Homo sapiens: one gene and its partner. The protein of the gene in region 2 interacts with the protein of the main gene of each other region in a biochemical or structural test. Each region holds a gene or a part of one and is shown on either strand. Other genes may lie near its edges.

Region 1 (7,230 bases), on a different chromosome or scaffold from region 2:
GCAGGAACATAATCTGTGTCTGCATCAGCGATATTTCTGGTGACCCAGCCAGAAATCACAGTAATGGAGTAACAGAGATTTGAGCTCAGGATTTACATCCAGATGGGGCCATCAACAGGGTCCCATTCAGCACCTTCCCTGGGTGGGCACAATCTAAGCCACGCTGTTGTGTCTGCCCCATTATTGGTGTCATTTCTGCAGTATTTGTACCAGCAGCCTCCTGTACTGAAGAGAAACATACAGAAGAATTGAGCCAGGGAGGGGCTCCTGATAAAGATAGGGGCATCCTGCCATTCCTAAGTGCCAGATGTCTGCAGAGGTGGGCACCAGCAGGCTGTCAGCTGAGGCAGGCCCCAGAGCACCCTGAATTGCCTTGGAGGGGTCGGGGCAGTAGTTTTCTCAGAACACAGCCCCAACCACCCAGGGTGGTCATGACAGTCAAAGAAGATCGTGGAAGAAAATCCAAATACAGTGCTTGGTGCTGGGCTAGTGTCAGCGTCCTCACTCCCCCACCCCAGCTCTGCCCCAGACCTCACTCTGAAGCCCCAGACGTAGGCACTGCTGCTTCTGAGATTCTCTAGTTGGTCTGCATGTGTCAGAGCTTCAAAACCAAGGGCATTAGAGGTGACATTGTTTCCCTTCAGACTCAGCCAGCCCAAGCTCCTAGGCCTTACATCTGAGGTCCTCAGGGGCTGCTGGTTCTGTGCCTCAGGAAGTCAGGGATGTTGGTTGAGGCTGGGTTGGACCTTTTCTAGGGAATGCCTCTCCCTTCAAAATGCACACACTATATGCTAGGCACACTGGGGGATATGAAGGCGAGTCTACAACAGGTGCCGCCAGGGAGCTCACAGACTGATAAGAGCTCGCATCTACTAAGGGCTGTCTATGAGCCAGGCACCATGCTGAGCATTTGACATAAATGGTCTCATTTAATGGGAGATGGGCCTTATTATCTTCATTTTATGGGTGAAGAATATTGAGGCTTTAGAGAAGTTAAGGGACATTTCTAAGGTCATACAGCTACTAAGTAGCTAGGTTATGAGCCCAGCACGTTGTAGTCAAAACCCACATTCTACCACATCACACTGCCTTCTGCACACAGCAGCAGGACCAGGGAGGGTGGTGTGCAGTAAGGACAGCACCAGGAGCAGGGAATGAAGGAGTTGCCACTCAGCGGGGCTATACCTTGAGGCTAGCTTGGCTCCAGCTTTGGAGTCTTGAATCCCATAGATCAGTGACTGACAACCAATAATGATTTGGGGCCCTCTCCCCCAGCAGACATCTGGTGATGTCTGGAGGTCTTTTCAGTTGTCACAACTTGATGGGGGGGAAAGATGCTACTGGCATCTAGTATGTAGAGACCAGGGATGCTGCCAAACATCCCATGATGCACACGTCAGCCCTCACAAGAAACAGTGATTCAGCCTAGAACGTCAAATGTACTGAAGTTGCTAAACCCTACCACTGGATACTGAGGCAGATGAGAGAATGGGAAGAGCTCCAGTCCAGGTGAACAAGGTCCAGACTCTGTCTTGGCTGCTGACTTCTCTTTCCCTCTCTGGGCCTCAGGGTCCCATTCCGGCCACAAGCATACACAGGACACAGCAAAGGTGGACTTGACTAATGCAGCAGGGAACAGCATGGGTGGGACAAGACTGTGTAGACTGGGGGAGAAAGGTCCTGCTCCAAAAGGCTGATGATCCCAGTCTGTTACTTTAGACTGGGTGATGAGTCAGGGGAACTTCTTTCCCTACTTCTTGCCCCATGGGGTCTACTGGGAAGGTCAGCTTCCTTTCTTTGGACTGTTCCTCCTTTGAGCTCTGCCTCAAGAGGGAAAAGCCTGGAAACCTGGCTTTCTGGGGTCCACACCCATAATGTCCTAGTCAGACAGTCACACCCTAATACAGTACTGGGTGGTAATTCCTCCCATGCAGGATCCGGGGATGGCCCCAGCTGGGCCCTCCTGACATTGGAGCAGGGGCCCGGCTCACCTGGATTTGGGGTGCGGGGCGGCTGAGGCTCACGCCCAGAGCCTTCTTTAGCAGGAGGATTCCGAGCAGATCATGACTCAGCTGCAGTCGCTGGTCCCTCAGGGAGGTGTGGGGAGCTGTCCCCAATGGGGATGGGCTGGAAGGCTCCAGACTCTTCTTGCCCATGAAGTGACCTGGAAAGGAGGTGTCCAGGCACAAGGAAGTCAAGCAGCCAGGATCCTACCTCAGAGGAAAAGTTCCTCATCTCTCCCACGTTTCCGTTCTTGTAGCGGGAAGACACTTAACCTTCCTCCTCTTGGTGCTTCCACCTCACCAAGGAGCCACAAAGGTGTCTGGGTGGTGGCAAAGCCTGCTCCCTCAGCTTTTCCTGAACAGGTAGAGAGGATGGCACAGCTGGCAGGAAGGTGGGATGGTCCAGGGCCAGGGAGAAACTCTGCTAGTTGTGTGGGCTGCTTGGACAAGGGACGAAAAAGGGCAGGGTAGGAAGTGGAGAGTGAAGAGGCGCCTGGAAAGTGGAGGTGCAGCAAAAACACACCAGCGGTTAGAAGATTCGGTTAAGTCTCGCCTAAGGTAAGGGGCACCGGCTGGCAGTGGGATTTAGGATCTAGCCCAGCCCTGTCTTAAACTGGCTGCGCGACCTTAGCCAAGTCACTGACCTGTCCGGGTCTCAAGTACATATCTATTAAATTAGATGAGCCCCAGGGTTTTCCACCTGCTCCGACACTAGTGTCCGTGGCTGAGGAGCGGCCAGAGGGTTGAGAAGGAAATGGGGTCTGAACTGGATGAGGGGCGCTTGCTTGCTCCGTCCCCAAAGACTTACCGGTGGCCCAGAGGTTGCCTCGCGAGTGCACTCGGATCTTGCTGGCTCGGCTGCGGGGCTCCGGGAGATCCCAGCTGAGCGGGGCGACGCCGGCAGCGAGCAGGGCGAAGAGCAGGAGGCTGCCGAACATCCGAGCGCCCCCCGCCCGCCGGGCCATGGCTGTGCCCGGGCCGCGGCTTCGTTCGGGCGCGCTTCCCGGCCGCTGGGCTCCGGGGCTGCCTTCGATCCTTTTAAATCCGCGCCCCTGGGGGCGGAGCCTGCCCTGAGCAGCGGAGCCGTGCCCCGCGCCCGCCGCCCTCCCCGCCGTCCCCACCCTCCCGCTAGGTTACCAGGCAGGGGCACCCCCTTTGGGCCGCCCAGAGACCTGCACACCCACACTCTGGCCCGCACGCGGGCACCGCTTCCGCCAGGGGCTTCTGGCGGAAGCCCGCCACCTTCAGGCTAAGGACCGGGCACCGGCCAAACAGGGGCCCGGCCCCGGCGGCGGAGCCGCTTCCCCTGGCCCTGCCTTGCCACTCTGCCACGGCTTTCGGCCAAATAGGCACTTCAGCCCTCTGAGCCTCTCTTCATGAGGGTAGAGGTCGGGCGAGGAGCTCTCCTCCCGGGTAACAGGCTTTTTTTTTTTTTTTTTTTTTTTTTTCTGAGACAGGATCTGGCAGTATCGCGCAGGTTGGAGTGCGGTGGCGCGATCACGGCTCACTGCAAACTCAACCTCCAGGGCTGGGCTCAAGCCTCAGCCTCCCCAGAAGCTGGGACCACAGGCACACGCCTTCATGCCTGGCTTTTTTTTTTTTTCTTTCCAAGAGACTGGATGTCGCTAGGTTTCCCAGGCTAACAGAGGCATTTTTACAGTGTCCAGCCAAGTGCTAGGCACCAAAGGACTTCCATAAACTAATCCCCATCACCTCCGCCCTTTGGGGGAATCTGACCCGTGTTCACCTTGCTCTCTGCCCTCTCACAGCCAGCATCACAGTCTGGAAATGTTCTGGCACACAGTAGGTGCTCAGAATGGGAATGCAGAATGATGGAGGGTGGGACAAAGGGCCGCTTCTGAGGAACGGGCATCCAGCTGGAGGGCCTGGCTTATGGGCAGGAAGCAGACCTCTGGGTCAAGAAAGTGGAAAGAGCACTGCACCCAGGACTGCACTGCACCCAGGAGTCCATGTACAAGCTGTGACCCGGCTGAACCTCACTTTCTTCAACTGTAAAATGGTAATAACCACACTGCCCTAATTTTAATACTTTTACATGTTTTAGCATAAGTACTCTGTGGCCGGAAGCAACAATTCTGTAGGACCTGCCCTCTCACACCTGGCACTTTGTTCTCCCCAGGAGCTGTCTGGACTTTCTTGGAAAGAACTTCTGGATAAGTGGTATCATATAATGAGCAGAGGAAAACACTGTGCTCCAGAAGAATACATTTATGTTTGCTTAATTAACTGAAACCCATTGTTCAGAGCACTACACTAGACACAAGAAGAGGGGCGACAGATAATTCCTTGCTCCCAAGGGAGTTAACCATCTCATTGGAGAGACAAGTACACAAAGGAGAGAGTGATGGAGGAGCGGGGGTGCAGACCACCCCTTGGACTCTGGATACCTCTGGAACACGGAACAGAGTGGCCGTACCAGAACCTACTCCCATCTGGCTTGATAATGGGACCTGCTTCTAGGACTCTTGCTTAGTATCTAGCTCAGCAAGGTTGCTAGCTCTGTGGATCCTCATCCTAGAAGGGGAAGCTCACATGAAAAACTGGCTGTCATACCCAGCTGGAGGCCCAGCTTCCAGGAGCATGACACACAGGACAGGGACGTTTCATTTCTGGCCCTGGCTTTCCCCCCAATCTCCTTGCTTCTCACCTCCCACCCTGGCATTTACACCTCTCTGCTTTCTTGTCACAGCTTAGCCATGGTGTACAGATATAGCTCTTATCACCTTCCGGTAATCATTCCTTTGTGACCCCCCTCCCTCTCCTCTGCATCCATCAAACCCCCATCCTATCTTCTCTAGTCCATGGATAATAGAAATTAGCGTGAACACACAGAAGCTGGTATTGATTGAGTGCTGCATCACTTAAATGCTTGAAGGAATCTTATTTGGTAGGTTTCTGTCTCCTCATTTTTATAGGTGGGAACAGGCTAAGAGGTTTAGCCACTTTCCCAGAAGTCCCACTGGAATCAGATTTCAGGTCTGTCTGGACCACTGCATCAGGCCCCCAAATCTATGCAGGGCAGATACAACTCTCCCTAAACCACACCCACTCCCATTGTACCATCTCAAATTTCAACACCAAGTTGTGTTTATGTATCTCAGGAGGGAGAGGGAGTGGGCACTGCATTTCGAGTTTCACCTCTCTTCCACAGGTGACTGGACCTTGAGTTCTGCTAAGGTTATTTATACTTAAGCCAAGCTTCCTCTGACACAGCCTGGGTTCACAGCTGCAGCCACAGCTCTGAGGCTGGCCCCAGGCACCCTTGGAACCATTTGCTCTGTCAGCCTACTATAGAAAAAAAAGGGGGGGGGCCTCTGAGGACCCTGGAGAAAACAGCAGGGGAGCACCTCCACAGACTTAGGAGCACTCACCTTAGGGAAAAAAATGGGAGGCACAGGGGAGAAGGTGGCTTGCTCAAGGGAGTGCTAGGCTCTAAGTTTAGCATGAGGACCTCAAATGCCAACTGCCTGTTCCCTAAGTCCACTCTGGTGGCAAGAGAAGTCCAAAGGCCTCCACTCCATGGGGAAAGGCTAGCATTGAATTGAATGGAGGTACGTGGGGAAGCTCTTCAGAACCCACTCTCGACCCTCCTAGGATTCTACAACATTCAAGGACATGCACAGAAAATGTGAGGCAGGTTCACAAAACAACCCATGGGGTAACTAAAAGGGTGAAAGATACATGGCAAATCCTATCATAGCTAACACCAGGAAAATATTTAAAGTACACCAAGTTTTTTAATAAAAAAATTGCTTCATCAAAAATAGCGATTAAGAATGGATATTACAGCCGGGAGCCAGGGCTCGCACCTATAATCTTAGCACTTTGGGAGGCTGAGATGGGCGGATCACCTGAGGCAGGAGTTCGAGACCAACCTGGCCAACATGGTGAAACCTCATCTCTACTAAAAATACAAAAATTAACCGGGCGTGATGGCAACGCACCTGTAATCCCAGGTACTCAGGAGGCCGAGGAAGGAGAATCACTTGAACCTGGGAGGTCAGGGCGGCAGTGAGCCAAGATCGCACTACTGCACTCCAGCCTGGGCAACAAGTGCAAAACTCCGCCACAAAAAAAAAAAAAAAGAAAGAAAGAAAGAAAGAAAAAGAAAATAAATGACAGGAAACCTAGAGTTGTCACAACAGGATGTGTAAAACAGGGGTGTTCAATCTTTTGGCTTCCCTGGGCCACATTGGAAGAGGAATTGTCTTGGGCCACACATAAAATACACTAACATTAATGATAGCCGATGAGCTTAAAAAAAAAAAAAAGTCACACACAAAATAATCTCTTACTGCTTTAGGAAAGCTTACGAATGTGTGTTGGGCTACATCCAAAGCTACTGGGCCGTGGCCGGACGTGGTGGCTCACGCCTGTAATCTCAGCACTTTGGGAGGCTGAGGCGGATGGATCACGAGGTCAGGAGACCGAGACCATCCTGGCTAACATGGTGAAACCCCGTCTCTACTAAAAATACAAAAAATTAGCCGGGTGTGGTGGCGGGTGCCTGTAGTCCCAGCTACTCGGGAGGCTGAGGCAGGAGAATCTCTTGAACCCAGGAGGCGGAGATTGCAGTGAGCCGAGATCGTGCCATTGCACTCCAACCTGGGCAAAAAGAGAGAAACTCCGTCTCAAAAAAAAAAAAAAAAAAAAAAAAAAAAAAAAAAAAAAAAACCTACTGGGCCGCATGTGGCCCGAGGGCCGCGGGTTGGACAGGCTTGGTGTAAAATCTCTATTTTGGCAAATCTTTGAGCACAATCTCCAACTGTATGGGCTGGGGAGATGAAGAGAAACATCCTGGGATATCTCAGGCCCTACTCTTTACTTTCAGAGTGAAGAAGGGACCAGAGAACCAGGAAAACAGCAGAATCTTTAAGGGAAAATCAGGGATATTGGATACAATTTCTTAAACTCAGAGGGAACGCATAGGGATTACCTATAAAATCAGAACAGTAACCTCAAGAAGGAAATCTTTAGTAAATCAAAATTGCCAAAATACAAAAGTTTTTTTTTTTAATTTTTATTTATTTATTTTTTTTTGAGACAAGGTCTTGCTCTGTTGCCCAGGCTGGAGTGCAATGGCATGATTTCAGCTCACTGCAACCTCTACCTCTCAGGCTCAAGCAATTCTCCTGTCTCAGCTTCCACTGCGCCCGGCTAACAAAATGTTTTCTTAAAGGCAATATTTGAAAAAAAGAAAATACCT
Region 2 (7,962 bases):
TTTCTTCTTCTTCTTCTTTTTCTTATTATTTTTTTGAGACGAAGTCTTGCTCCTGTTCCCCAGGTTGGAGTGCAATTGCACGATCTCAGCTCACTGCAACCTCCACCTCCAGGTTCAAGCAATTCTCCTGCCTCAGCCTCCCCAGTAGCTGGGATTACAGGCACCTGCCACCACATCCAGCTAATTTCTGTATTTTTAGTAGAGATGGGGTTTCACCATATTGGCCAGGCTGATCTTGAACTCCTGACCTCGGGTGATCTGCCTGCCTCAGCCTCCCAAAGTGCTGGGATTACAGGCATGAGCCACCGTGCTCGGCCAAGCTGTTTTAAATGTACTTCCAGAAGAACAAAACAAAACAAAAAACCTCAGAGCCGAAGATTTTAGCTCATTTAGTTTAAAGAGAATGTCTACCACACTGTTTAATGGCAATGCCAGTTGCTAACACCAAACTAATCAGCCAAGTAAGAGTTACTTTTTCAGAGAAATACAATATTCCAGTTGGAATGTCAACTCATGTCCCCATTTTATTTCTAAATTCTAATTATAAAATAGCAATAAGCTGCAGAGCCTTGCAGGAGCTTGTTTGGATGAAACAAGGTACTCTCATCTTCAGTATTTCTCCTTTGTTCTTGGTTTTGCTCTCAACCCAAGATTGGTATTCTTTAATAATGAATACAGAATGAGGCAGTAAGGTCATCTCATGAAAATTTTTATCATTTTGAGAATTCAGAATACTGCAACACAGGACCGGTTTTAACATAAGGCATTACCCTTAACAGATACATGTATAAATGTAAGAGACTCTGAAAGACTGAGATTTCCCACTGTGGTCCCTCCACATCCCTGTCCCTACAGCTAATCTTCCTCACATCATCTTGCTCATGACCTTGGCCCCAAACTGTTCCTCCTCAACCTCTTGATAAAATCCAAGATGACCTAACAATGGCTGCTAATATCGCAGAATAACTCCTCCCTCTTCGGAGATCCACTGACCAACTGTTCCTGAAAAGAGACAAACTCCAGGTGACTCCCTGCATCCCCCATATACAATTCCAGGTGACTCCCTGCATCCCCCTTATACAAAGTTCTACCTCCTTCCCCTCAAATTAGAATGCTCTTTTGGAACCTTTCATGCTTAGCTTTTTTTTTTTTTTTGGAGATGGAGTTTCGCTCTTGCTGCCCAGGCTGGAGTGCAATGGCACGATCTCAGCTTACTGCGACTTCTGCCTCCCAGGTTCAAGTGATTCTCCTGCCTCAGCCTCCCAAGTAGCTAGGATTACAGGCATGCGCCACCACACCCAGCTAATTTTGTATTTTTAGTACAGACAGGGTTTCTTCATGTTGGTCAGGCTGGTCTTGAACTCCCGAATGAAGGTTTATTTTTTGCTCTGGCTGGTTTTCTTCAATGTAAGACCAGGAAAGATAGGAAGGTCTATCCAATGCCTTAATTAATGGAGGCTTCACTAACATGGGTAATTTGAATTGTCTCTTTTGTCTGGACACCCTGGAGGATTTTCCACCTTCTCTTTCAAGGCAATACAACATAAAAGCACTCAGGATGCGTGAGAGTATGCCGTTCTTCATTAAAGTGGGAGAAGGACAATTGTGAACAGGATGTAGGAAAAGATAAGCAGCATATTATATACTACTTTGCTACCCTGACCACAGGAGCTTTGTTAAGAACAGTTTTTGGAAGGAAAACATGGAAGTCAAGAATTGGAAAATTGATTCCTTTGGAATTATTTGCCTACTCCAGTTTGGAGAGCGCTGGTCTAGCATGACTAGCCCACAATTGTAAGGAAAGAAGTCACCAAGAGCAGTGTTCTGTTGAAAAGCAGAATCAGGCCCACAAATATAGCAGCTACAATGTTATCAAACAGCAAACATAAATCCATATATTTAAAGTGTTCACAGAAATAGAGTGGTTAAAAATATCAGTAACAAGAAACTATCAGAAATGGCCAGGCCAATATGAAAACCAAAAGAGAACACTAAAATAAAAAATTAAAGTAGAAATTCAATAAAAGGGTTAAACAATAAAATATAGGGAGGTGAAGATAAACCTCAAGAAATTACACAGAATGCAGCACAGAAAGACAAAGAGATAAAAAAAAATGACAGAATCAAGAGACAAGGAAGTTAAATGGGAGAAGTGCAAAACATGTCTAATCAAACTTTTATGAGAGAATAGAAATATAAGCAATATTTGAACAAATAATAGTAGAGAAAATTTTCCAAAATTGATTAAAAACACCCATCTACAGATGTAGAAAGCCAAAGTCCCAAACAAATACACGAAAAGAAATGAAAGCCTATAAAATCAGAAGGTTAAGTCCTAAGAGATTCATACAATGATTGATAACATTTTTAAATTAAGAACTTCTGAACATCAAAGGTCTTCAGAGTGAAAAATCAAACTGAAATGGGAGAAGATATTTACAACACATATAACAAAGGATTAACATCTAACATTATTAAGACAAGACTGTGACAGATAAATGGGCAAAAGCAATAAACAAGTATTTCAAAACCGAATCACAAATGGTTAATTAACATATGAAAAGATGCTAAACCTCATTAAGACTCAGAGAATTGCAGATTTCGCTCCAATGAGACACCACCATTTCACACCCACCAGATTGTCAAAAATTAAAAAGTTTAATAACATCAAATGTGATAGGCATATTAGTGTTCATTTTATTATTCCTTAAACTGTCTGCACATTACATATGCTTTTATATGTACATGTTTCATAACTAAAATTGTTAAGTGTCACCTGAGCAATAAAAATATTTCTTCATAAGCCTGATGAGAGCAGTTTCAGTGAAATACTGGGCATGAAAACCAGACTGCATGGGCTGAAAGGCTCTACAAGATAAAGGCGTAAAGCTAACTTATGGACAACTATTTCAAACTTACCTATAAGGCTGGAAAAGCAGAGCTGCAACTTTAGGGAATGATATGGTGAGAGTTTATGTTATATTTTTAAATAAAGGAAACTGGATTAGGTTTAGAAAAATCTAGAGGGAAAGGACGACAGTGAGTAAGGTGTCCCTGGTTTGTCACAAAGATACATGATACAGGGATCGGGAACAGGAATTTCCTTTAGGGATGAGAGATTCTTTGACCTTATCCCATCACTCCCAAGCCCCATCCACTCCAGTCACAATAGTCTACTTACTCCTCCTTCCAGCAAGCCTCTACTTCGGGACTTTTATAACCTCTATGGAGAATACTCTTTCCCAGATGGTGCAAGGTATGCCTTTCACTCTTTTATTTCCCCAAATGTCAATTCAGTGAAGTGTTCCTGACCACTATGAAACTGAAATCCCATCTGCACTCCCTGCCACCACTACTCCTGATACTCTTATTCCTTTTCCTTGCTCTATTTGTCTTCATAAGCTTTTAATACTCTATGTATGATAGACTCTATATTGTTGAAACTCTCTACCTCCATTGTATGTAAGCTCCAAAAATGCAGCAAATGTAGTCACAGCGCCTACTAATGCTTGATACAAAGGTAGCTCAATGAACACATACTGAATGAATATGGACCCTGCTTGAGGAAACTGAAGAACAAGTATAATAAAAATGATGCTGTAAAATTTGAACAAAATGAAGTAATGCACAGAGAATAATCAATTTGCTGCCCACAGAAGTGGTGACATTTGGGTTAGATCTTGAATCATGAGTTTGCCAAGTGCAAGAAAAAGGTGCACATTCCAAGAGAGTGGAAGATGGTAGGTCTGAAAAGGCCTTGCACATTTGAGAAACAGGGTACATTTGGAGTATGGCAGAGATAACAGTGACCAGATTTTAGCTAACCTTACAATATACACAACAATGGACGCATTATATCCAACTTCTCAACTCTAAATATCCTTTTCAGAATTATAATTGTCCAGTTACTTGTTTTATTTGCAGTAAAGTTAAGAGTACAGAATACAAAATAAAGTTAACACAGAATTACTGGCACTCCCTTTACTCACTACAAGTTTGAGCAGAGTTAACCTATATTTTTTTTAATCAAACTGTAAATTCAACGTATAACACTCAAAGTGAAAATACTGCTTTCAAAGGTCTCAACAGCGGGTATTATTCAAAGAAGTCAAAACTAAAAATTCTGCATGGTAGGAGAGAGCAGCTGGGTGGGGAAAGGTCAAATTCAACTGCTTATTTAGTAGCAGATACTCCCCATTTAACCAAATGAGTTTCTGATTGGGCTTGCATGCTGTCATAAATAATATTCACTTATTACTATGTTTTCAACTAGTCTATCGTCCTTTTATCCACATCACTCCTTCTTTCGGACACTCACCTTCGTTTTAAACCTAACTCAATTTATTTTCAGGATTCCTATTTGAGACAAGAAGCTCTTGTGTGTACACACACAGAGAAAACCTTGGAAGATTATATTCCACAGTTCAAGAGCCTGTGTAGTCAGTACTGGAGCATTTAAGCACAAGATAGGAGAAGCAGTGGACACCATGGTGTTTTGGGATTCCTACTGCCAGGGGGTGGGAACCCAGGGAGTTCCCTGGGTAGGCTCGAGGTCAAAGCTCAGGTTTAAAGCGAGGGGGGCGGGGCATGCCCCAAGAACCTCAGGGAGGTGTGTGGGCCCTAAAATGCAACTGGGAAAGAAAGGGCGCGGCCACTCGGAAAGACTCACAGTAATAAGCCACCACAGGGTCTCGCTTGTCATGCTCCTGAGCCGTCCTCAGATGATGCTGTATGCTCTTGAACTGTGCGGGGAGCGGGGGCAGCGGTGCAAGCGCGGCCATCTCTACTCCGAACTCACCACTTCCTACTCGCGCTCCACCGGCACTTCCGCTTCCGTCTGGGCGGTAGCGCGCACGAGCGTTCAGAGCAAATGCTGCCCACTCTTCCGTTGCTCAGCGACGTCAAGTCAACTACGGATCCCCAGCTGGGACAACCTCAGGGTGCTTGGCTCTCGGCGGTTAGAACCCACAGAAGACCCGAGCATTTTGGCGCTTATGCCGCGCATGGCGCTAGCGCTCTCTGCTGGTAGGAGGAAGGGTTTTTGTTTTGTTTTGCTTTTTTGTTTGGTTTGTTGTTTGTGGCAAAAGGAAGGATAGAAAAGGAAAAACAAGAAAATAATGTATGTTGACTGGGAGAAAGTATAAAGGCGAGAATTGCCTTTGGCGTCATTCAGGAATTACCACTTCCAGTTAATATGCCACATTAATATTCCATATAGCAGTGTCCTTTAGAAGCCTTTTTGATTTTAGAAACTTTAATTTCAATACTTGCATGAGAGAGAAATAATGTGTTTAAATTGTAAATTAAATTTTTCTATGTTGACATACTGGATAAAATAATCAGATTTCGCGCCAAATTAAGCTAAACATATGAAGCTTAAAGAAGATTGAACTTTTGTTCTCAGCTGGCTAGTACGTATTTTAGTGAATGAATAATCTGTAGATCACCTTTTTTTTTTCTGGAGAGTGATTAACAATTTGTAAAGTATTTTCATATTTATTATCTTGTCTTAATGTAAGATAGGGTGTTTGGGACGTTTTCAACGCTGGTAACTCTTAACCATTGTACAGTAGGCATCACTTTTCCTTCTACCCTCAATGACTTCAATTCTCTTCCTCTCCTCTCCATCCCTTACTTATATCTTTCAGGACTGTACACTTTATTTACTTCCTCCAATAACCTTCTTTATTTTATCTCAGTCCTCAGTTTTGACAATTCATCTTAAAACTAGTTTTCACTGAAATCACACTATCCCCAAGAGCCAAAATCTCCAGCTCGGAAATTCCCCTCTGCCTACTATTTTCTGATCACTCTCTCACCCCCAGAAGAAACCGCTCCATGTCCTCATATTATCCCACTCCACATACGTTGCCTAGACCTATTTGCAAAGTCCATCATCTTATTCTGGGTCGGGCTTTTTTACTCAGCCTGAAACTCAGTTCTGTCTTCTTCCCCAATCTCAGCGGCATATTTCCTACCACTGGAGAATGTATGGTTTCTTTCTCTTTCTCTTACTCCCACTATTTGGACTTTCCAGTCAAAAGTTGCTAGATTGGTAGAGAAATCAATGAAGAAAAGCAGAGTTGGATAACCATAACTGTTTTCTTTCTATACTCACAACTTTTCATTTATTTGTTTCCTATTACTTCTTGATTCTCAACCGCAGCTGCCCTTAAAGATCAACTTTAAAGCCCACTCCAGGCATTCTCACTTAATTGTTCTAGGTGGGATCCTAAATGTCAGTATCTTTAAAAGGTCCTCATGTAATTTTAATGTTACGTCTAGGGTTAAGGACCAGTGCTGTAGTCCACAGATGGTGTTTCAAACTTCTCTCGCTCTATTCAAGCTAGGCACTCAGCCCCAATTTCCTTGGTCTACAACAGCATTTCCTGCTATTGAGATTAAGGCCACCACCAGATATGAATTATTTTGCCTTGCCTCTACCACAACTTAAAGTAATAATAACTAGCTAGCAGCATTTGCTGAGCATCAACTATGTATCATGCATGTTTCTAGGGTCTTTATATTAATTTATTTAATTTGCACCACAACCCTATGAGGAACATATCATTATTATTTTACAGATGAGAAAAATAAGACACATAGAATCTAGATAACTTGCACTAGGTCACAGCCAGGAAGGATGAGTATTCCACATTAAAATCTAGGTATTTTGGTTTCAGAGCCTGTGCACCTAGCCATTACTACTTGACTATGATGTCTTTCTAGATCTTATGTTTTATCTTTTCTCTATTCCATCATCTTATGTCTGAGAAACAAATGTTCCTCTTCCTGGTAGAAGGCTGCACCCTCCTGTTACTCTCCTGATCTCCCCCTTCAGAAGTGAATTTTGCCACTCTTTCTCATTTGCATACATTCATGTGTACTCTTATTTGCATACCCTCATGAGCAGGACTGAGGGAAAAATAAGAAAGTGAAATGGTTGGAGTTGGATTTTACTCTCTGATCTGCCAACACATGCTCTTTTCTTTTCTTTCTTTTCTCCTTCCTTCCTTCTTTTTTTCTTTCTTTTTTTTTTTTTTTTTTTAGACAGGTTCTCACTCTGTCACCTAAGCTGGAGTGCAGCACACTATCAGAGCTCGCTGCAGTCTTGGACTCCTGGGCTCAAGGATCTTCTTGCCTCAGCCTCCTGAGTAACTGGGACCACAGGCACATAACACTATGGCTAATTATTATTATTTTGTTGCCTAGGCAGGTCTTGAACTCTTAGTCTCAAGTGATACTCCTGCCTCGGCCTCCCAAAGTGCTGAGATTACAGACAAGAGCCTCATGCTCTCTTCTTTCTAAATATGCTAACCCTTTCATGAGATGATAATTGATTTGATGGAGAACAGTACAGAGACAGTGTTAGTGTAACACACATTGAAATTATGCTATAAAACAAATATTAATGACTGTGAGGTTGCTTTTTCTTGTTTTACTATGATATTTTACTAGAAAGACCTACATTCTTCTTCTCCATTCATCTCAGACCAGTTTCTGAAGGATCTGACATCACCCTCTAGGACTGGGCTAGAACCTTGGCAAGTAAGGGGAGGGCAGAGCTGTAGAACAAAATAGGGGGTGAGGGCAACCATAGGAAGAAGAAAATGGAGAGAAACTAGAGCTGACAGGTGTTTTGATGGGAAAAAATGTTTTACACCATACCCTACATACACACATGTATGTGTGATCATCTGACAATAAAAATATTCTGTGTCCGTTTGGTCAGAACCATCTTGTTGGCAAATGACAGGGCATCAGTCAATGTAATCAGGATAATATATATATCTATAGCTGTATCTTTTTAAGATACTGTATGTGGTAGAAATTTGGCTTCCAGTATCATGAGACTAACATCCTATTATTTTAGCATCCCCCCCAAGTAGAAATAATTTTTCCTTAAATTTTCCGCAGAAGAATGATAGGGAAGACCCTGAAAACTTGGCCAGGACCATTTGC

What was found. Proteins that work in one complex are often made in the same cells at the same time.
Region 1: the proteins of NMBR (region 2) and NMB form a complex in vitro, tested with the Homo sapiens proteins (one study listed by BioGRID).

The regions. Positions count from the first base shown.
Region 1 is NC_000015.10:84,655,185-84,662,414, forward strand, and holds the start of NMB (neuromedin-B isoform 1 preproprotein), read right to left. Parts: upstream 3,016-7,230; 5' UTR 2,969-3,015; coding exon 2,812-2,968; intron 2,497-2,811; coding exon of another isoform or gene 2,216-2,496; intron 2,165-2,215; coding exon 1,992-2,164; intron 226-1,991; coding exon 190-225; coding exon of another isoform or gene 86-189; 3' UTR 1-85. UniProt on the Homo sapiens protein: Stimulates smooth muscle contraction. Induces sighing by acting directly on the pre-Botzinger complex, a cluster of several thousand neurons in the ventrolateral medulla responsible for inspiration during respiratory activity.
Region 2 is NC_000006.12:142,144,107-142,152,068, reverse strand, and holds the start of NMBR (neuromedin-B receptor), read left to right. Parts: upstream 1-4,946; 5' UTR 4,947-5,025; intron 5,026-7,962. Other genes in the region: vacuolar protein sorting-associated protein VTA1 homolog, read right to left, coding at 4,670-4,781. UniProt on the Homo sapiens protein: Receptor for neuromedin-B. Contributes to the maintenance of basal sigh rate through signaling in the pre-Botzinger complex, a cluster of several thousand neurons in the ventrolateral medulla responsible for inspiration during respiratory activity.